Homo sapiens: one gene and its partners. The protein of the gene in region 4 interacts with the protein of the main gene of each other region in a pairwise test. Each region holds a gene or a part of one and is shown on either strand. Other genes may lie near its edges. The genes, in order: NOL12, ZNF620, TNNI1, CDCA7L, TRIM42, PBX2 and ZNF438.

Region 1 (2,316 bases), on a different chromosome or scaffold from region 4:
GCCCTAAATGTTTTCAAAAGGAGGGGCATGTTCTTCATCCCCTTTTCTGTCCTGCTGGCTGAAATGCAGACATAATGGCTGCAGCTCAAGCAGCCACCTTGTGCTGTGAGGCAGGGGCCATGTGTTGAAAATGGCACACAACATAGAACACAGCATAGAGTTAGAAGCCCGGCATCCCAGCCTCCAGCCTTCCCAGCTCCAGGCTGGGAACCTCCCATCTTTGGGATGGGAACTCTTTTACACAAGCCAGTTGTTTTTCAATTTTGTTTTAGAGTATATGCAGCTAAACTTAACTCTTCCTCATACATCTCTCAGAGGCCCAACTCTGGAAAGCGACAGGAGGAAGGAGCCCAGGTGCCTCCACAGCAATGGTGAGGGGCTCCTGGAGAAAAGACAAGTTCTCCAGAGGGCTCTGAATCCACCACCCTGATCCTAGAATTGGTCAAATCACTGTGACTCAACTTCCCTGGTCTGCTGGAAGAAATGAAGGCACACATGGAAAGGAGTGGCTGAGAATTTAATACTGGTAAACACTATAAATTGTAAATGTAAGTTGTAAATGACCTTGTCACTGGAGAGGGGAGAAGGAACTGGAGTCAGACGTCCCAGCAGAAACAGCAGCGGCAACATGCGGTAGGCACACCTGGAGAGCAACAGGCACTTTGGTAAGTGGTTCATGCACATGGTCTTATTTTAGTCTCGGGGCAGCCCTAAGAGGTAGGTATCTGGTGTCACCTTACACATGACGAGACAAACCAGAGAGGTCAGCACAGCAGAAGCTCATGCAGCGACCAAGCAGCAGAGCCTGGATTCAAACCCGAGCCCTGCTGTGTGCAAGAACCCCTGGGACTCAGCTGTTCCTGCTCACAGCAGGCTGAGCACCAGAGCCACCTGGAGGGCCCATAATAGGCACCACTGTGCCCAGGCACGAGGCAGCCAAGTGGCACATGCCACCCGGGGAAGACAACTTGGTGGCAGGGAGAGCAGGTGGGCGGAGCCAAGAAGCCAGGCCAAGGCGCTCAGCACAATCCCTGAGGGGAACTCACCATACCCGGGTGCAGCCCTCAGACTCCCACCAGCCTTCATCAGTGGGTTTTGATGGTGACATGGGAGAGGGCCTGCCCACTCCCAGGTACAGCATAACTGAGGCACAGTCACTAAGCCTGCCCCACTGTAAGGCCTGGCTGTTGGCTGTGGAGAGAGGACAGCCCTGCAGACCCTGGCTCACTGCTCACCCCCACTCCAGGAGCTCCCACATCAGGGCGGGTAGAGCCCGCAGTCCTGTCGCAGATGCCCCTCACCGCACTGTCCTGTCATCCTGACTCCATAGTCCACGGGCGTCAGCAAGCCCTGGGAACACAGTTCACTCCCCTTTGTGGTCCTAGTGTTTAGGACCCAACACAGCTCCTCTAACCAAGGCACAACCTGAAATTCTCTCCTGCCCAGGACTGACAAGCTGGGACAAGGAAGGGACAGGGTTTCCATCAACTCATCCATCTGGAAGGAGTGTGAAGACATGGCCCCTTGTGGAGTTCTAGCTGGCACCCGCAGGGTCTACTCTGGTGGGGGCTACTTTTGTACGAGTCAAGATGCAACTGCTTTATTTTTTAGTTTTTTTTTGAGACAAGGTCACAACGTTGCCCAGGCTGGAGTGCAATGGCGTGATCTCGGCTCACTGCAGCCTCCGCCTCCAGGGTTCAAGTGATTCTTCCACCTCAGCCTCCCAAGTAGCTGGGATTACACGCGTGTGCCACCACACCTGGCTAATTTTTGCATTTTTAGTAGAGACAGGGTTTCACCATGTTGGCCAGGCTGGTCTCGAGCTCCCGACCTTAAGTGATCTGCCCGCCTGGGCCTCCCAAAGTGCTGGGATTACAGGCGTGAGCCACCAAGCCCGGCTGCAACTGCTTTAGAAAGAATTAATTAATCCTTCCACGTTGGGACCCACCTGGGAGCTGCTGGAAGCCTGGGGACGCTGCCCCAGTGTGGTGATGGGGGATGACCTGGCACTCAACTGCTTCCACCACTTCAGTGTCAGTTGAGGAGACTCCTGGGGCCGAGGACAAGGGACAGGCACAGAGGCTCCTCGGTGAAGGGCATGGGGGGCACTGCTCCCCCACTGGCCTCAGGAGCCTGCTTTTCAGAGCAGCAGGTGGGCTCTGGATTCTAGCAACGGACACACTGATCCTTAACCCTGGTTAGGATCTTAACACAGGGAGAACTGTACTTTATTGCAGCCACAGGGCTAACTGCTGGAGACAGACCCATGGGCCCTGGCCATTTCCACCACCCCAAAAACCTGCCCTTGTGCGTGGT
Region 2 (3,500 bases), on a different chromosome or scaffold from region 4:
AGCTAGTGGGTTCTCATGCTCACCTGGACAGATACCTCTGAGAGCCTCCCTGCCCATAGGTTCCCAGGGATCGAGGCCCCATGGCAGTTCCCCTTGCTCCAGCTGGGAGACCAGAACAGGCGTGGTGAATGGGAATGCTGCCCAGGGAGAAAGAAACAGGAAAAGGTAAGGGGAATCAGGAACCAGGATCCTCTTGCAGCCCCCTTTATCTTTATCTGCTGAGCCAGGTAGTGAGAGACAAGGTGAGTCAGGGAGAAACTTAATCTATGCTGCTGGAGGACAGAAATTTCCCACAAAGTGGCACAGAGTCCCAGAATAATCCCACGCTCACATAAGGGAATCTCAAGTTTTCTTCAGAGAACTTGGAAGACACAAGGGGCTTTGCTGTGCTCCCAAGAGCTCCTTTCCCCCCCATGTTTTGGGTACAGCCCCTCCCAGGGTTGGAGGGACAGGTGATTTCAAAACCTGGGAACGCAGGGCTCTCTCCACCCAGAAACTTCCAGGCAGCTCAGCCTTCAGGGCAACAGAGAGTTATTAGAAACCCCACAAAGTTCTCCTGCCAGGAGCGGTGGCTCACACATGTCTTCCCAGCACTTTGGGAGGCTGAGGCAGGAGGATCGCTTGAGGCCAGGAGTTCGAGACCAGCCTGGCCAACATGGAGAAACCCCATCTCTACTAAAAATACAATAATTAGCCGGGTGTGGTGGCGCCCACCTGTAATCCCAGCTACTTTGGAGGCTGAGGCAGAAGAATCGCTTGAACCTGGGAGGTGGAGGTTGTAGTGAGCCGAGATTGCGCCATTGCACTCCAGCCTGGGCGACAGAGGGAGACTCTTGTCTCAAAAAAAAAAGAAAAAAAGAAAAAAACCCCACAAAGTTCTAAGGAATAAAGAAGCCAGGATGCTTAAAGGGCAGAGGCCAAAAACAAGAAGAAATGTCTTACCCAGGGAAGCCACATTTGCATAATTCTCCAGCATCACTTCCCTGTACAGGGCCCTCTGCACAGAGTCCAGGCTGGCCCATTCATTCTGGGTGAAGTACACAGCCACATCCTCAAAGGTCACTGGTTCCTAAAACAACAAGTTCCTGCTCAAACCCTGTGTGAGGGCAGAGGATCAGGCTAAGTAGTGGGGCAGAGATCTACTGGGTCTAGTGGTATTGCCAAGGACAGTTATCCAGCACTCCACCATGAGGCCAGCCCTCAGCCATCTTTGCCCGCACCAACAGGGGAGTCCAAGGGTCATTGCACCCCTTTGTGGTCATCCCCAGCAAACAGCTCTATTTTCATCTGCTGATCTCTGCTTGCCTCCACTGTGCCCTGCTCTGTGTGCCCATCTGTTCCTCTGGGCTCCTTTCCCCAGTGTGGGTTTTGTGTGCACATGCACAGGGGACATCTGTATAAACACAGTGAATAACACTTTTGTACTGATCTTCACTCTCTCCCTAACCCCATTAAAGTGATAGTAACATAATAGCCCAAGAGAAGAGTCAAAGCAGGCTGGGCACAGTGGCTCACGCCTGTAATCCTAGCACTTTGGGAGGCCAAGGCAGGCGGATGGCTTGAGACCAGCCTGGCGATGTTGCCAACAGGGTGAAATCCCGTCTCTACAAAAAATACAAAAATTCGCCAAGTGTGGTGGTGCATGCCTGTAGTCCCAGCTACCTGGGAGGTTGAGATGGGAGGATCACCTGAGCTCGGGGAGGTCGAGGCTGCAGTGAGCTGTGTTTGCACCACTGTACGCCAGCCTGGGTGACAGAGTGAGACCCTGTCTCAAAAAAAAGAGAGAGAGAGAAGAATCAAAGCCAACTAGAGGTATAAACAGAATTTTAGAAGGCAGAAAGAGAATGAATGATAACTAGACTAGAAAAGCAGACAAAGATGAAACTCAACTTCTGGCAGAAGGGGAAGCAAACAAAAAGGGGCCCAATTCACACCACAGAACTAAGGATGAGCTAAGGATTTTGTAAATGTGCACTGTTGTTTATAACTTGGTAAAATATTCTATCTCCTTAAAAGCAACATAGAGAAGGAAGGACCAACAAAGTATTTAGGACAATGAATGAAAAATATCTACACATAGGCATGTAACTGAGACATCTCAGAAAAATGAGAATACACAACAGATCCTACAGGCTTTCAGAGAAGGAAAAACAACACACACGAAGACTGGGAAGTCGAGATGGCAACAGACTAAACACCAAAAGTAAAAGGGTAATGTTTTTGAAAATGCAGGGATTACAGATTACACCTGTAATCCCAGCCCCTTGGGAGGCCAAGGTGAGAAGATTGCTTCAGCTCAGAAGTTCGAGACCAGCCTGGGCAACATGGTGAAACCCCGTCTCTACAAAATATGCAAAAATTAGCCATGCAAGGTGGTGCTCCCAGCTACTCGGGAGACTGAGGTGGGAGGATCACCTGAGCCTAGGGGAGGTTGAGGCTACAGTGAGCCGTGATCGTGCTACTGTACTCTGGCATGGGTGACAGTGGGACTGTCTCAAAAAAAAAAAAATGCTAAGGGAAAACTTCCAGTTCTTATCTAGGTGGAATCACAGGGGCTGGATTTCCCCTCCTGCCTGAAACAAAATAACCAGACAAATTATATAAAACAATTTTCAAGATATCATGCAAAAAACGACAACAATCCCTGAGAAACAGGAAAGAAAAGAAGTGAGCCCTATAATTCCCTAAGCTACTACCCTGAGGAATTTCCAGGCTGCAACACAGGAAGGGGGAACTGAGGCAGAACCTGGCATATTTCCTTGTAGAGTCTGAAGAGACCAAGGCAGCTTGAGTTTATAGGACAGAATGCCAGAGAGGAGAGGGCTGCATAGAGATGGAATCTCAATTATCAGCAGAAGGTCCCTTTAGAGTATTCAACAAAATACAGATCAGTACATGGGTGTGGGAAAACTAACCAAGGCCAGAGAAAGGATCATTTGGAAAGACTGAAAAGAACGATGCCTGATATTTACACACCATTAATCCTATGGAAAATAGGAAAAAAAAGAGCCAGGCACGGTGGCTCATGCATGTAATCCCAGCCCTTTGAGAAGCTGAGGTGGGCAGATCACTCGAGGCCAAGAGTTCGAGACCAGCCTGGCCAACATGATGAAACTCCATCTCTACTAAAAATACAAAAAATGTGCCAGGCATGGTGGTGTGTGCCTATAATCCCAGCTACGTGGGAGGCTGGACACAAGAATCGCTTGAACCCAGAAAGCAGAAATTGCAATGAGCCGAGATCATACCATTGCACTCCAGCCTGGGTGACACAGTGACTCTGTCTCAAACAAAAGAAAAAAAAGAAAAGAAAGAAAATAGAAAAAGAGAATAAAAGGAAACAAAGAACAGATGGGACCATTACAAAACAAGTAGAAAGATGACAGGCCCAGATCCAGCCATATCAATAATGGTATCAAATGTAAATAATCTAAACATCCCAAAAGGCAAACATTGTCATATTGGACTTTTAAGCAAATAAGAACCTACTATCTGCTTAA
Region 3 (3,500 bases), on a different chromosome or scaffold from region 4:
TCCTCTGGATCAGGTCCTTTCTCCATCCCACTACCTCCTGGGTCCAAAGCCTGGTGAGAGCATAGGGCCTTCTGGGGTGGAAGGGGGGTCTGGGGCAGCCTCTCTTCCCCCAACATACTCACTAGAGTGGCTCCTGTGAAGCAGAGACCAAAGTTCTGACTTTTCTTTTTCCTTTTTTTTTTTTTTTTGAGATGGAGTCTCGCTGTGTCACCCAGGCTGGAGTGCAGTGACGCGATCTCGACTCACTGCAACCTCCGCCTCCCAGGTTCAAGCGATTCTCCTGCTTCAACCTCCTGAGTAGCTGGGATTACAGGTGCGTGCCACCACACCCCGCTAATTTTTGTATTTTTAGTAGAGACAGGGTTTCACCATGTTGGTCAGGCTGGTCTCGAACTCCTGACCTCGTAATCTGCCCACCTCGGCCTCCCAAAGTTCTGGGATTACAGGTGTGAGCGACCACATCCGGTCAAGTTCTGACTTTTCAGGGCAGTGGGATGGTGACTTCTGAGCTAAGCCTGCAAGGGAAGTGGCTGTTCCCAGACCTGGGGTCCCTTGGCTTTTCGACCACCCTAGCACTGGCCCTAGGAGGGGCTGAGTTATCAGAGCAGCAACCCTTCTACCCACCCTACTGAGTCCCCATTCTACCTTCGAATCCCATGTATTATCTTCCATAAGTGCCAGAAATTGGTACAAAGTGCAGTGCCAGCTGCTCCCCAGGGCATGGTCTGGCTCTCTGGGCTGCTGGGCTGCCAGCCCCTTTCAGAAAGCATGGCAGTGGGAACCAGCAACTTGGGCTACCTTAGGGGAAGCAGCACTCTGCCCAGGGTTCTTGCTATAAATAGGTCAGTGGGCAGAGAGGCAGATGTGTGCAAAAAGCACAACCCCAATCACACACAGAAACCCGTAGGCACGGACACACCCAGTCTCAATGCACGAAGTTGGAGAACCTGACAGGGCTGGTCCAGGCCACAGAGGATGGGGTTAGGCTTCATGCCTTCATGCCCAGGCAGCCACAGAAACCCACTCTTCCCCGCCTCACAGGGCTCCTCCGGTTGGCCTGGATCCAAAGCGATCTCCTTGTTTCACCTCTTTCCAGCTCTTCCCTAGAGCCTGGCCCCAAGTTCCAGAGTCAAATCCCAGTTTTGCAGTCAACTATTAACCTGGGGCCCTGGCAGATTGGGGTATCCACCCAGTCATGTAAAGGCAGGAGACCTGCTCTGGGCCTGACTCAAAGCAAACACGTGGGTGCAGAAGACCCATGGGAGGAGGAGGTGGGGCCCACTCAACACACCTAAGCCAGTGGCCCTCTAGGAGGGGCAGAAGAGCCAACCAGAGGGTTCCTGGAGGTCATCGGGTTCCTCCTTCTGCTTCCAGGCAGCAACAGACCTAATTCATCTCCTGTGAGGATGGAGCAAGGGCGAATATAGGCATAGACATATCTGGAGCGCAAGGATTGAGAGGCCCTGTGGACAAGGGGAAGGAGAGCTTGGGGGTGGGAGAGGGATCTATGGAAGGGGCTGTTGTAGCCAAGAATGGGGCCTGGGCTGGGGGCCTGGCCTCTGGAGAGCCCTGATTCTACTCCAGTCTTCTCTCACCATGGAGACAACACCAGTAGAGCTGGGAGCTGGGGCCTGCCACTGAGTAACAGCTCACACATGTAGCACACTTATGCGTCAGGCACCAGCATGTACACCTTAATTTATTTAACTTTCACAACAACCCTAGGAGAAAGGTACAGCTACTATTCTCATGGTACAGTGGGGAAAACTGAGGCACAGAGAGGTTAGGGACTTTTCATGATCACACAGCTAATAAGTGGTGGTCCCAGGATTCAACCCAAGAAGTCTGTTAGAATCCATACTCTTATCGACTATTTTAATAACAGCATTTCAATAATAGTAATATGTGATGTTAAATGCTTTATCTGAGTTATATCATTGCATTCTCACAAAAATGGTACATTTGTTAGCTCAAATTTACAGATGAGGAAATGGAGGCCTGGAGAGTTCAAGTAGCTCACTCTAAGTTACAGGGTTTGCTAGCTGCAGACTGGAGACTAGATCTCAGGTCACTCTGCCTTGGGGTTGCCCTTTTCTGAGATCAGACTGGCCTTAACAGAGCCCAACTTTCTTGGAAGGACACAGCTGGGGGTCGAGGGTCCTGCATATGCACCTGGGGAGTCCCCACACACCCGCACCAAAGGGGAAACATTCAAAGGAGATGCAGGTGACATACAGATGGGCTAAGGTGAGGCCTTCCTCCAACATGGGGCCCTGGCTGAGAGTGGAGGGATAGGGTGCTACTTGGGGGATATCTATTACTAATCAGCACACAATAGCTGGGTGGGCACCCCCTCTCTCTGCAGCTGGTGGAGATGGGCCTGGTGCTCCTCTCTGCTTGGTAGGAATGACCAGGGCAGGATGCCACCTGCTACACTCTTGCCTGTCCCAGAGCCCTTGGGAGACCAGCTGTTGCTCCCACCTTTCCCCACAGGGTGCCCGGTCCCCACGGCGCAAGGAGGCCAAGCTCAGCTGTGTGTCTGAGCCCACTCAGCAGCAGGCATGATCAGGGCAGGGCCCAGCGCTAAGGGCTGCTGGGGCTAAAGTGCCTTGCTGAAGGAGGGGCAGAGTTAAACATTAGCCACAATGGCCCCCCGCGAAGTGAGTCATACTCCCCACAAGTCTCTGGGCTGGGCAGCCGGGGGCGGGGGGGTTAGCTTCGTTCCAGGTGGGTGACCAAGCTGCGGAAGCCCAGGACAGTTCGCTGGGACCAGTGCTAATGGCAGCTTCTGCTCCTGACCCCCATCAGGTCTCTTTCCTCAGACATCCCCAAAGCTTGTCTGCCTGTGGGTCTTTCATTAAAGGTGACGGGCAAGGGTTTTCTCTTCCTTCCAAGACACACTTCTAGGCTGGCTTGTGGGTCCCCTGAGACGAAGGCTGAGCAGGGTGAGCCTCGAAAACCCCATAGCACTGGCCCAGAGCACTGCGGTCAATGTCCGAAGGACCAGAGAGGGAGGGTGACTTGCTCAAGGTCACAAACCTAACTGGAGCTAGGAAGTAGGTCCCCAGACTCCCAGTCTGAGGAAATTGGATGTGGACAGGGCTTTGGTCTCCTGGCCAGAGGCAAACGCCCAGGGATCTGAACAGGCTGCCCATCTCTGGCCTCAACTCAGCACCCCAACTGGCTCCAGTGCCAACCATTGGCCTCTCTCACTGGTTGGCACAGGCTGGGTGAGCCTGGCCCTTTGCCCTGGGTTCAGGAGAGAGGTATGGCTTTGCCTGGCAGTCAGGGGAGGTGTTCCAACCTGGGAGCCCCTGGGGGAGGAGCGTGTGTGTGAACGCTTGTGCCTGTTCATCAGAAGGGGTGAGCATGGTGTGTATGCGTGGGCATGCAGAATGCAGGGTGATGACCTGTCTGCCCGCCCTGAGTGTCACAGACACCTGTGTGTCCCCTGTACTAGTGCCTCCCAGATGCTCTTCTCCTGACTGGCTCTTTGTGAC
Region 4 (3,500 bases):
CACAGCATTGTCTCTAGACCGGGGTCCCCAGCCCCCAGGCTAGAACCAGTCTGTGGCCTGTTTGGAACCGGGCTGCACAGCAGGAAGTGAGCAGCGGACGGGCGAGCATTACCGCCTGAGCTCTGCCTCCTGTCAGATCAGCAGCAGCATTAGATTCTCATAGGAGCACAAACCCTCTATTGTGAATTGCACATGTGAGGGATCTAGGTTGTGCACCCTTTATAAGAATCTAATGCCCGATGATCTGAGGTGGAACAGTTTCATCCTGAAACCATCCCCTTCCTGCCCCCCAAATCCATGGAAAAACTGTCTTTCACAAAACCAGTCCCTGGTGCCAAAAAGGTTGGGGACCACTGCTCTAGAATGTAACCATCACAGGTCTGTGGCCAGAGAAACATATTAGGTCAGATGAGGCTGAGCAGAGACCCAGAAGGAATGAAATGATCAGGCTGTCAGGAAGAGAGACCAGAGAAAAGCTTGAGGCAGGGGTGGCAGAGCCCCTGAAAGGTGACAGGTGACTGAGGGGCAATGAGCCTTGGGTGGCATCACCTCGGCCCCAGCCTAGCTCTGCAGACCTGGATACCTTCAATGTGAGATCTATTTTTTTTTAAATATTGGCAACTAAATTTAAAACTTGACAGTGTCCCGTTACATATCCAGAAAAACACAAAAAAAATGCAGAACGCAAAGCCTCCCTCTAAATCACCATTTAGAAGAAATTTAACCCATTTCCTACCAAAGATATTCTGCCAAACTTTAATTTCTATGGTTATATTACCCCCCAAATATACTTTTTTCAATATTTAGAACATAAAACTATATGCTTAAACCATTAACAGTTACATATAAAAATCCCTTTTAAACTATACCGTTCCCTTCCCCCAGATTCTACGCATCCCTAAGAGAGACCGCCGTCCAGATGGGAATTACTGCACTAGGCTGCCTCCCCTTTCCCAGGTACAGCTGACTTTTGACCCTCCAATTCAGAGCCTGGCTCTGAGCCCTTGGTGAGATGGCATAAGCCCTGATAGAGTTTAAAAACAAGTGAGATTTCAATACCAATGCCTTCGACTCCCAATAAGAATGACAATTAATGTATACTTTACCAGAACTTTATCATAGATTTTATCTCGAACAGTTATGGCAACATTTTCTAAGTCCTCTTCGGTGATATCCTCCACTGGCCGAAAAGAAGATATACGGTGACGTCGTCTGTACTCCCGGCATTTCCCCTGCACAATGAACACAAGCAGAACATGGAGATGTGTTGAGCAGTTATAAAAAAATTATAAATATTTTAAACTCTCAAAGATCTAGCACCATTAATGTTAACCCCGTCCCTCTTCTATTTCCCTGCAGCCATTTCATTTAGTTATTTACTGAGCTCCTGCCACCTGCCAAGCTTCCTTCTCAGCAAGGCGATACAATCATAAAGGAGGAACTCAAGGTTTTTGGTTCTTTGCTGTAAACTCTGTGGAGAGGTGAACCACACTGAACAGCCAAACCCACAAATGGGTCCACAGTTGCTCCCTCCAAACTGAAAGCGCTTGAAACGCCTCATGCCTAAAACAGAAAGGCAAGGAGGAATCACTGCACTTTTCTTTATTGCCTGCAGCAGAGATTAAAGCAGGGTCCTAACAAATGAGCTGCTTCTCAGCTCGGCTTGGATAAAAGACTCTCTCTGTGACCTCCAGCTTAGACCAGGGCTGCTTCTCAAAGTGTGATCTCAGGAGCAATGGCATCACCTGGGAAGCAGAGAGAAATGCAAGTTCTCAGCTGCCGCAGACCCACGGGGTCAGAACCAGCCCTGGGGTGACAGTGACGTGCGTTCACGTTTGGAGGGATGGTAGCTCAGACAAAAACTAATTCATGTATTAGTCAGAAAATACCCCAATTGTCTTCCTTCTTCGGAAGCTGTAAAACTCTTCCGCAAATTTAGCGGCTGAGACAGTGAAGTTCTCTAGAGCAAACTTCTCAGGAGGCCGCGCACTCCGGGTTGGGTTCATACGCCGCGTGATCTGTCCCTCCGAGAAGGCCCGCCTCACTGTCTTCTTCCTCTGAAATCAAGAGCACAGACAGAGACAACTGGGGACTCTCTCGAATAAAAGCCGTCTGGTGGCTGATCACCATATATCAGTATTGGTATAATTATAAGGAGTTCTACTTACAGAAGCTGAGGTTGGGGTTCGTACTGGGAAGAAATCTGGCATCGAGTTCAATTCCGCCAATAACTGGGCAAGCTGAAGTTCAGAACAAAAGAAAGAATCTTACAAAAATAGGGCTCCAGGTTTAGGTCATCCAACACCTATCTCAAGTCTTCCATTTTGCCACCATAAGAAACCTAACTTGAATAGTTTATATAACCCACAACAGTTATACTTTTAACCTCACATGTAAAGATTGTACCTCCAGACCTGAGATGCTGATGTCATCATTCATATGAATGAACACTAGCCTATTCCTTATATATAAGGACAACACAACACTATGAAAACAGTCCTGGAATGATCAAGACCTGGAGCATGAGGTTCCGATCCCGACTCGGAGGCTAATCCAAGGCGGTGTGACCCTGGGACAATTCATTTTGCACACGTGAGTCTCAAGTTTCAGGATGTTCAAAAAAGAAAAAGCTCAACTAGATTATTTCGATGGTTATTTAGAACTCCAAAAGTCTGATTCTTTAAATAGATTAATTTCTCATCAATCAAAGTAATCTATGAAGATATTCCTACGTGAACTAATAATACCAAATAATAGGCATTAATATGCCAGAGAATTTAATTAGGATTCGTTTTAGTTTATACAATTATATGAGTGCCACCAAAAAAATCATAAAGAAAATAGCTTATTTTAAAGATGCAGATGGATACAGTGCTGAAAATTTCCCTTAGCTAAGTAAAAATGTTTCTTAGGATAAAAATAATCCGAAAGTAGGCATTCCATTTTTGTAAGTAATTTATATTAGACATATAAGCTTGCATATACAGTATCACTGCATCATTCTTTTTTTAAAAGGAAAAGATTAAAAAATTACCAAAATGCTAAAAGGGATAAGTGGTAGAACTATTTAAAAAAAAACTGTAGATAAACAATTATGAAGCAAACAATGATTCTCTACAATGATCAGATTAACAGTAATTGATTATATACAGAAAAACCAAATATATGTAACAAAGATTTCACCTGGTTCCATTCATTGTTCTAATGAAGACAATGTAGAGTGAATTAACACTGTTGAGGTTGTTTTAATTCCTAGACCTCTTCCATTCCTTCAGAAGTCTCAGAACCAGTGCTGGTCACCATAGAAGAGTGGTTCTGTGGTGAAAAGCTACCTGCCCAACCTGCTCCTTGCAACTTCTCAGTGGACTTGGTGACATCCCACTTCCCCTGCTTTACTCTGCTGGGAACGGGCTAGTTGTTCAGCCCCTCTCATCCCCAACACAACTATATACTTAGAACTTAGCTTGGTCAACAGTAAGCAGCATTATGGCACCATGTAG
Region 5 (3,500 bases), on a different chromosome or scaffold from region 4:
AGGTGGTCTGGATGCCGTCCTCGATCTGGTCCACCAGGATCTTGGCTGACTGCAGGAATGCCACCTGGCCAGTCTCCTTCAGGGCTTCCTTGGAGTAGGCGATCAGACCATCCATCTCGTTCACTTTCATGGTTGTAACATACACATATTTTTCAATTTCCTTCTGCCTGGACACTTCTAGATTCTCTATCTGCTCCATGATGATCTTCTCTTTCTCCTGAAGAATGCTGCGCAACTTGAGAAAGCCATTTCTGATCTCTTTTCGCTTTGCCTCCTTGTCAGCTTTAAAGCTGTTTTTTAAGATGTTGAATTCCATTAGGTCATTATCAATTTCATATCGGACTGCAAAAATGCCAAGTTAGTTACTTTTAAAATTTTCATCTCCCCAGGTGTCAAAGTCAGTAGCAAACTAGAACAAATTACCCTAGGCTCCAAGGAGGTGAATGAAGAGGGAGGGAAGGCACTTGTAGTTGGGCTGAAACAGGCTGGAATAGGTTTATGAAATGAATTTGGTCCTCCTTAGTACACCCTTCCCCTTCTTCCCCCTCTGATCCTTCTCTGGGATATTTCTATCTTGTAACAGTAATCCCTATGGCCTTGAGTCTGAGACTGGAAGTTCAAGCCCACCCTTGATATTGGTTTTTACCAGATTTCAGTTGTCTGCAAGTTGGACTTGAGAAGAGGTGAAGTCACAAAATGACTGGTGCCTGCTTTTCCCTGTAGGAAACCTAAGCTTTTGCAGTGGTAAGAGGAAGAACTAAGTTTCTGCCGACTACTTCTAAAGGTTGTCTTGCATCATTCGCTAAGCCTCCAGCCCTATACAACAGTGGGAAATCAGCAAAGCTTCCCTTCATTGAGGTGGCTCTCTTAGATGCCCTTTTCCCCCCTTTGTCCCTCTTGTGGTTCAGCTATGTCACTTCTCCTTGCCTTTCCCCCACTCCTTTCAAAAAAGAGTCTGCTGTCACACTTCAAGGAAAACCAGTTTACCCTGTGTCCCCTCATATGGCATTTGGATTTTAAGTTCACTCAGTCATTCAACAAACATTTACTGGAGCCCTGTTACATGCCATGTATCTTTTAGGCACTAAGAATATGGATATGATTATGAGAGGGCATCTGTGCTCAAGGTATGAATAAATCCAAAGATACTACAGTTTAAGGATGCTATGGCAGGGTAAGCACGTGGCACATCTCTATCTGTGAAATGAGCTTTATATGAAAGGTGAAATGAATACCTTTGTTAGCTTTAAAGGATTTGAGGCATTAAGGAGCAATTTGAAGAATGTCACCCTTCTGTGGTCTATGCTACGGGTAAGGTTCTTCTCATGAAAGGTAAACTCTTCAGTGAATTGATGGGCAATAATCCTTACCAAATTTTACTCAGGAGTGGGGATGACTAGCTATTTTTGCACTTGGTTCATAACATTATCCTGGGTTCATAGGAAGCTGGACTTCTGTGAGTGGTGGTCGTTGTAACAAGGGTGTGCACTTGAATATGGGAAACCCTAGTGTTCTGTCAGATCATGAGAACAGGGACCACATTACCACTATGACTATGGTGTGTAGAGGTGAGCAAATGTATTTGTTGAGTAAAAGCCATTCTTTCCTGTCTTCTAACAACTCATTGGTGAATGCCAGCAGTGTCACTCTCTGGCTAACTCCCTGAAGCCCCAGTGTTTTCTTGCCACCTCCTTCCTCACACTGGCTCAGAAAAGATGAGGTGATGCAGGTGAGACTGAAAGGGAAACTACCAGGGTCCGATTTCAGTGCTGAGAAGTGCTTCTTGCCTTCCCCAATGCACTGTGACTGTGGCAGCCAGAATTCTACTTTGCGCATTATTTTCTTTGACTATTCAATAGTTACCTACTGTTAAAGATACTTGGATAGGAAATTTCTTGCTGTATTAGGGATTGATTAGGCTTATGTAGAGCAAAGTCCTGAGAAGCAGGATAAAAATTTCTTAGATGAGAGGAAAAAGGCATCTCCAGGAGGAGAAAAAAGACAGAGGAAGCCACAAATGTCCCACCCCAAACCTCTGCAAATATGAAACCTCTGCAAGAGCTGATTTTAAAGCAAAGTCAAATCAAGGTCTCTTTTAGGCAATACACTTAAAACTAGTTGTTATTTATTAAACACTTTTTATGGACCAGATCCATATGTTTTTATCTATCACATATATCTTCTTACAATGAAGATATTGTTTCCACTTATAGATGAAAAAGCTTGAGGCCCTGGGAAGTTAAGTGACTGTATAGTGTTACACATCAGGTAAATGGGAGAAACTAGGCTCTGTCCCTAATTCTATTTGTCTAGCTCCAAACTAGGTTCTTAATTGCTTCAGCTGTGGCTCTCAGCCCTCTCTGAGTACCAGAATAACCTGAGAGAGTGTTAAAAAAAAACTCTTCTCTTGGACTCATCTGCTAAGATTCTGAATCAATGGGCCTGTGTTGGGGCTCAGGAAGCCAGGTGAGGCAGTTTTCAGTGAGGTTTAGAATCGAACCCAGAGAATCTCCTGGGATCATGATAAAGATGCAGATTCTGATGCACTAGGCCTGGGGTGGGTCCTGAGATTCTGCATTTCTAACAAGCTCTCAGGTGATGCCAATGCTACTGGTCCTTGAACCATACTTTGAGTGGCAGGGACCTAAACTTTTGAGCTCCCTTTATTTCAGTGGTTCTCGACCTTGGCTGCACCATAGAATCACATGAGGAGTTTTTTAAAATTCCATCTTGCTGAGCCTGCACCTCTATGTGGATGGGACAGGGGCATCAGTTTTTAGTAAAGCTTCTAGAATGGATCTTCTCCCTAGGTCCCCCAGTTTCTCAATGTGTATTCCCAGATCACTTGCTTTTGAATAACCTGGAGATCTGTTTAGAATGCCAATTTATGGTACCTCCCAGAAAAGTGAATCAAATGCTCACGAACAAGTTTGAACCCTGGTTAAAAAATTTTTGTGTGTCTGTTTCTTCAGCAAGGATGAAAGGTTAAATTCTTTACTTACAGCTAATATCTAATTTACCAATTATCCCTTTTTCCCTTTCCAACTGCTGGGTTTCCTGGAATTTGGACAGGCATTTTCCCCCCACCTTGAATTGAGCTTTGTTGTCTGCTCAAATTTTAGGTGCCCTGGACTCAGAAAACTATCCTAAGTTTCTCCTGTATTAAGGACGAGGTTCTCTACAGAGGGATGGAAGGCACAGTAGGTTGTAGGCGGCAGTGCCTTCACCATGCTGAGGACCCAAAGAATCCAGCCAAGCCCTGGCCTAGGGAGGCAGTGAGTCCCACCTTCAGAAAACCCTTTTGGAACCAACAGTTCTACCATTTTCTTGGTAATGTGGTTCCTGCAGGGTTCCTTTAATATGAAGTCTTCCCTGGTGGTGGTTCCAAAATTAAATAAATGTCAATTGACAAGCAAGGTTTCCAGGTATGTGGCCATTGAGAAAAATTAAGGTATTCCTGAAGCTACTGAGAGGTCCGGGGTGATGTGGTCATTAGCAAA
Region 6 (2,970 bases), on a different chromosome or scaffold from region 4:
TCCAGGGTCCTGGCTCTGTCTGCCCCTCTCCCTGCTGTGGCCTCCGCCCTAGGTGGGGCCTGCACCCTCTCTCCAGCCCCCATCTTTCAGTCGTCTTGTCACAGGGAATGCTAGGAATTCATGCCTTTGGGACAAGAGTCCTTCAGGTACTAGAGAAATAATTATCACCCCACCCCTGGGTACTACCAGCCTCTGGGTACAGTCACTTCCCTGGGGGATGGGGAGTGTACCCTCTAGGGTCTCATTCCCTCAGAGCCCCCGATCCTATTTATTCCATCAGTCCATCAGGGCTGCCTGGTGACCCACTGGAGCCCCATCTTGATTGCGCAAAGTTGCATCAATAGGGTTCAGGCCAGACTGTTGTCTGCAAGGGTGCAATTGGGCCTGCATCATGAAGGCAAGGCTGGGGAACAGGAGAGAAACCTGTTTGGAACTTCGTGAAAGAAAATCATTTTTTTTCTGGGGTTTCTCATGTTTTTTGAAAAAAATTCTCAACTAAACCCAGGGAAAAAAGAAATTTCTTTATTTAAAACTGCATTTTGTTTTTTTTCTGTGAAACTACACAAGTTTACAAGTGAGGAGAGAACTGCCCCCGGCCCATGCCTCCCACCCCCCCACCCATCACACTTCCAACCTGTCCCCAGTCCTGCCCGGATCTTTAATGGGAGGGGTTCCCCACTCTGACAGTCTTGTAAAATCCTGAGAATGTCTGAGGGGATCAGATGGTAGCTAGTTCAGGGCTGAGGATGGGACAGTGTTGATGTTACTTTTCCCCCACATCTGGCTTTTTGCAACCTCCTCCCTCTCCCTACCCCTTGATTTTGGTGTGACAAAAAGATACCTCATTTATGGGGAAATTGAGGAAGATACATATACAAGCACCCCAACCCATATTTAACATATTTGGCAATAACTCCCTTCCCATTCTTCCCCCTCCAATTTTCAAATAGTAGTTTTTTAAAAAATTAAAGACATGTCACTCACAGGGGAAGATGGCATCTTCAATTTCCTCAAAATTACTGAGTCCAGCCCTGCCCAAGGGTTGTGGGAAGAAGGGGGATGAGAGGCCAGCAGGGCAAGCCCTTCACTGCCTCCACATCAAATGCGGCAGAAACCTGCCTGCATGAACAAAGAACACCTAAGGGATTTTAGGGGGCAAAGCTTGGTGCCCTGTAAAATTTACTTCCTGATGGACAGGCCTGGAGCCAGGGGGGCCTCTTTACCAGTTCTGTTTGTCCCCCTTTCTCTTACCAGAACCCCTTTGGCTATCACCCCTAATATGGGAAAGTAAGAAATAAAAAAAAAAAAAGACAAGAAATCAACATATTTATAAAAAAAAAAACAAGCTACTTCCCCAAACTAAATTAAAAATTAAGAACCACCACCACCACCACCACCAACAACAACAAAAACAACAACAACAACAAAAAAAACAGATGGATCCCAGGGTTTCTTTTTCTTTCTTTAAAAAAAAAAAAGTTCAACCCCAAAGCCCAGTCAATAATTCCCTAAAGTAGCAGAAACTCCCTCCGAGGTAGATATCTGAGTCAGACACTCTCGTCCACCGAGCGATTCTATTGGTTTAAGATGAGCTGCGTATGAGGTAAGTAAGCCGTCCGGAGGGGCGGGGGTGGGGATGCATGGGGGCGTGGCCCATGTCCTCTGTCCAGAAGTCATGTCCCCATTTTTGGCATCTCTGATTGGGCAGGGCTGGCGTCTCCACAGATTCCAGAGCATACAAGTGGGGTGGGGAAGGGAAAGTGGGGGAGCCCAGGAGAGAAACAGAATAGTTGCAAGTGGGAGTATGTGTGTGTGAGGTGTGGGAGAGGGAGAGAGAAAGACAGAGGAGAAAAAGGGGTCTGAGAAATAGGTTTCTCGGTATGTGTATGTTTCTGTGTAAGAAAGAAAGCGAGAGAGGAAAAAGATGGAAAAAAGGGAGAGACAGACCCCACACTCCCCTTAGAGGCCCCATTCTTCCTGCCATGTAATTAGCACCCCCAGCACAGAGAGTCTCGTTAGGGAGGGGATGACCCCATTGGCCCTTCTCTGTCTTGTGCTTCTCCTGTATTGGGGTTTGTCCTCTGGAAGCCTGCGTCCTCTTCAAGTCGCCTTGTGAGAGCCCCCACCCCTGTGACCCTGAGGGGCAAGATCAGTTGGAGGTATCAGAGTGAACACTCCCTGGTCCCTCCGTTGGGGATGTCACTGAAGAGGGGGTCACAGCCTCTTGCCAGCTGCCATTTGCCTGAAAGGAGAGACAGAGTACAGAAAACAGAGAAAGCCCTGGGAACCCTGTGTGGGCACAACATTACTAGGGAAAATGCCCCTCTGTCCTGTGAGAACTGGACAGAGAGGAGCTTCAGGATCCACTCACCCTCATTTCCCGTGGGCTGTACATCTGGCCTCCCCCGAGGTTATCCCCATAGCCCCCTGGCCCCATCGAGTGTCGGAGTGATTCCACCTGCAGGCAGCAGAGGAAGGTATGACAGTGAAGAGAAGCCTCAGAGGAAAGAGGTCTTGTATCCTAAAGTAGAGGAAATGGAGTTGGGGAAAGCCCTATTCGAGAGGAGATGGGCATCTGACCTGGGAAGCAGAATAGGAATCTCCGTTGAGCCCAGGCATCCCCAGAAACATGTCTCCAGATCCTGAGAGATTGAAAGAGCCGCCAGAGCCTTGTGGGGGCAGAGAGGGAAGAGTGTAATAGAGCCCGTGATGGTAGAGGATGAACCACAACTCTCAACTCTTGTGGGGACATGCTACTATACTCCAATTATCCACAAAATAACATTCCAACACACAGAAAGAGCAGGCTGTTCCTTGGCCACCCGTGGGAAGAAAGGCAGAACTAAGATCACTGGAATGGCCTCTGTCCCCTGACATCTCCAGCCTATCTCAGCTCGGTCCCTCTCACCCCAAAAGGCCCCCTCTCTGCTATGATCCTGCCTAGATAGGAAGTGGGAACAAAAGCAGGAA
Region 7 (2,734 bases), on a different chromosome or scaffold from region 4:
CCCTCTGAAGTTACTTGGGAGTGAGGGAAAGCAGTTGAGACCCCTACACATCTGGACTGAACTATCTAGTTCATTTTCCAGGTTGTAAATTTTCTGGTCCCAAAGACTACTTGAAAATAACTTTTTACCAAGCAAGTAGACTTTTTATTAGCTGAAGTACTAAATTTTTTAAAAAATTATTTTGATATGGAACACTACAGCTATAAGACTTGCCAACAACTAATCTTCAATGAAATGTGCATTTAAGAAAATAGCAAAATTACAAGAAACAAAAATCTGAGTCCTGAAAACATGGATTTTAAATTATTGTAGATGACAATCTTATTAAAATACTGCTCTATATCATATTCAAATAAACCAGAGAATTTAATAAATATCAGCATTTACCATCTAACTTGATACTATGGTTGAGATTAAAAGGGTTTTGCTGCCTGGACATTTTTGACATTTGTCAATCTATATAAGCAGAAAACATCTGAACAAAAGGAAGGACACATGCATGTTTTCACTGAGAGCTGTATTTGAAGAACAGCCTATATTCTGCTAAATTTCAATCTTCAAATTTTGATCTTTTTATTTATTCTGAAAGTCTAAGATATTAAGAATCAGTACGTATTTTAAAATAAGACTGCATATAGTTAGAAAAATATGCTTCGAGAGCTTATATTTTATTTCGTTAAGAAAATAAAACCATGTACAAAAATCATTTCTGTTCACTCACACCAATCCTGTTGTTTGATCTTTGTGACTAAGCACCACCATAAAGCACGAAGCTCTGAAGGAAGGTGGCGGCAGAGCTCTCTCCTTAACCCCAGGCTGCCTTGGGGTCTCATTTCTCAGCTTCACTGGAAAGTTCGATCACTCCCTGGTTGGAGACCGTATTTAAAATAGCCCACAGTTTGGAAGGGTCCTCACAGTTATGCTGGTGCTTCCAGTGGTGGAGGAGGTCCTCTTTCCGTCCCAGCATCTCTGCACAAAGCAGGCAGTTAAAGCCTGAATGGGACCACAAGAGAAACGTGTGGAGGCCAGGACACTCAGGGCCCTGGCAGGTTTCCCTTGGCTTGTTGGTTCCTGACTGGGGTCCTTCATTTTCCATGAGCATTTCCACGCCATTCTGATGAAGGTGGAGCTGCCTTTTCAGTCTTGGACATGCATGTGATTCCTCGGAGGAGGAATGAACCTTCTCCGGCTTCCCTCTCTCAGGATGCCTTTTCCAGTCGGGGCTAGCGTGCTGCACCAACTCTTCCTGAGTCCCCTTGCTTCCTGGGAAGGTCCCTTCTTGTAGCCTGCCCTCAATTTCCTCTCCATGAACATCAAGTAAATGAAATTTTATTTCCGCAAAAGACTGAGCAGTAATCTGACAACGACCACATTTGATTTGTAATTTGACTTCGTCTGCCTGGTTTAGAAGGAAGTCTTCTTCCAGGTTGGACTTGTTTTCCCTGAAAAGGCCAATAATAATGAAGATAAGATTTCATGGAAAAATGCAATTGGAATCTTTCCTCTCAGCTGTCAGCCTTCAGGGATCTAAAACATAACACTGACGAGAAAGACAAGGGCTGGGGTAAACAGAGAGCACCTGGGAAGACCTTCTGCAAGGACCGTGGTGAATACTAATTGTCACTCCTGCTTGTGGCCACACATTTCTCCAGCTACCAGGGTTCATTTAGTCAACAGTCCTCTTCACGCATCTGTCCCAGGCGAGCTAACTCGTCTTTGGTTACCACAGGGACAGGAGCAATCACGTGGAAGAGTCACGTAAGAGCGCGTGAAGGGCACGGGAACACCCTCGGTTCTGTTGAAGGTAACGGTCCCACCCTACCCACTGTGGCTCTCCCTAACCTTGAGCACCAATACCTTCTATTCAATTTTGGCTCACTCTGTCATGTTCAGTAAAAATAAAGGGTGCCTACCCTATTTCTTCCTTGCTTTTCTAGAGTTTCTCCTTTTTCTTAGACATTTCTGTCCCCTTTAAGACCTCTGTGCCTTTCACTAATGAACCATGAAACCTCACTTCTTCCTTCTTTTCCTAGAGTTAGATTTTGATTTTTAGGTACAATGTCCAAACTACATTTGGCAAGAGCGTCTGTTTTCATTTGGGGAAGAGGAGAAGATTTCATATTCAGAAAGGAGCCAGTGAGCACCCAGCTGAAGGTGCAGCCGGGACTTGTGGGGCTAGTCCTGAGAGTGTCAGGTTCATTTGTGCAGGGTTGGCCAGGGCCACTGCACCACCTGCACCTTGCCTGCTGTTGCTGCTGGGAAAACATGGAGAGGAGGTGGGCAGTCCCTGAAACCTGCCGCCATGAGAGCCACTGCGATGGGGCCAGGCTGAGTCACCTGCTGGCAGGGGAAAACAGCACACTAGGGCATGCAGGAGTGGGTAGAGAGGGGCCCTGAGGCAGAGCTGGGCCAGGGGTGGTGCCACACTTCATGGAGCCAGTGGGAGCTGGGGACAAGCACGAGCCCTGCCCTTTCCAAGTTGACGGTGTGGGAGCTTACCAGGCACAACTGCCTGCAGCTGCCCAAGCTGCAGCTGTGACCCAGGCACCCCTGTGCTCTTGGAAGCTGGGAGCAGGCAGGAGCGCTCCTGCCCTCCCAGGCATCACTGTAGCTACCCTGCTGTGGCTGCAGATCCAGGCATCTCTGCACTCTCAGGGGTCCAGGAAGGCCCCTTTCCCCCCACGGGCTCAAGAAGCACCTGCTCCTGCTGCCTGGCTTCTCCCTGCTGTCAGCA

The links.
Region 1: the proteins of CDCA7L (region 4) and NOL12 interact in binary tests that used the Homo sapiens proteins (3 or more experiments, as listed by UniProt).
Region 2: the proteins of CDCA7L (region 4) and ZNF620 interact in binary tests that used the Homo sapiens proteins (3 or more experiments, as listed by UniProt).
Region 3: the proteins of CDCA7L (region 4) and TNNI1 interact in binary tests that used the Homo sapiens proteins (3 or more experiments, as listed by UniProt).
Region 5: the proteins of CDCA7L (region 4) and TRIM42 interact in binary tests that used the Homo sapiens proteins (3 or more experiments, as listed by UniProt).
Region 6: the proteins of CDCA7L (region 4) and PBX2 interact in binary tests that used the Homo sapiens proteins (3 or more experiments, as listed by UniProt).
Region 7: the proteins of CDCA7L (region 4) and ZNF438 interact in binary tests that used the Homo sapiens proteins (3 or more experiments, as listed by UniProt).

The regions. Positions count from the first base shown.
Region 1 is NC_000022.11:37,691,659-37,693,974, reverse strand, and holds the end of NOL12 (nucleolar protein 12), read right to left. Parts: 3' UTR 501-2,316; downstream 1-500. UniProt on the Homo sapiens protein: Multifunctional RNA binding protein that plays a role in RNA metabolism and DNA maintenance. Participates in the resolution of DNA stress and the maintenance of genome integrity by localizing to sites of DNA insults.
Region 2 is NC_000003.12:40,509,039-40,512,538, reverse strand, and holds part of ZNF620 (zinc finger protein 620), read right to left. Parts: intron 1,070-3,500; coding exon 943-1,069; intron 138-942; coding exon 24-137; intron 1-23. UniProt on the Homo sapiens protein: May be involved in transcriptional regulation.
Region 3 is NC_000001.11:201,404,731-201,408,230, reverse strand, and holds part of TNNI1 (troponin I, slow skeletal muscle), read left to right. Parts: 3' UTR 1-3,500. UniProt on the Homo sapiens protein: Troponin I is the inhibitory subunit of troponin, the thin filament regulatory complex which confers calcium-sensitivity to striated muscle actomyosin ATPase activity.
Region 4 is NC_000007.14:21,904,400-21,907,899, forward strand, and holds part of CDCA7L (cell division cycle-associated 7-like protein), read right to left. Parts: intron 2,241-3,500; coding exon 2,169-2,240; intron 2,058-2,168; coding exon 1,890-2,057; intron 1,233-1,889; coding exon 1,107-1,232; intron 1-1,106. UniProt on the Homo sapiens protein: Plays a role in transcriptional regulation as a repressor that inhibits monoamine oxidase A (MAOA) activity and gene expression by binding to the promoter.
Region 5 is NC_000003.12:140,684,564-140,688,063, reverse strand, and holds part of TRIM42 (tripartite motif-containing protein 42), read right to left. Parts: intron 343-3,500; coding exon 1-342.
Region 6 is NC_000006.12:32,184,233-32,187,202, forward strand, and holds the end of PBX2 (pre-B-cell leukemia transcription factor 2), read right to left. Parts: intron 2,670-2,970; coding exon 2,581-2,669; intron 2,459-2,580; coding exon 2,372-2,458; intron 2,243-2,371; coding exon 2,150-2,242; 3' UTR 501-2,149; downstream 1-500. UniProt on the Homo sapiens protein: Transcriptional activator that binds the sequence 5'-ATCAATCAA-3'. Activates transcription of PF4 in complex with MEIS1.
Region 7 is NC_000010.11:30,844,132-30,846,865, forward strand, and holds the end of ZNF438 (zinc finger protein 438), read right to left. Parts: intron 1,443-2,734; coding exon 830-1,442; 3' UTR 501-829; downstream 1-500. UniProt on the Homo sapiens protein: Isoform 1 acts as a transcriptional repressor.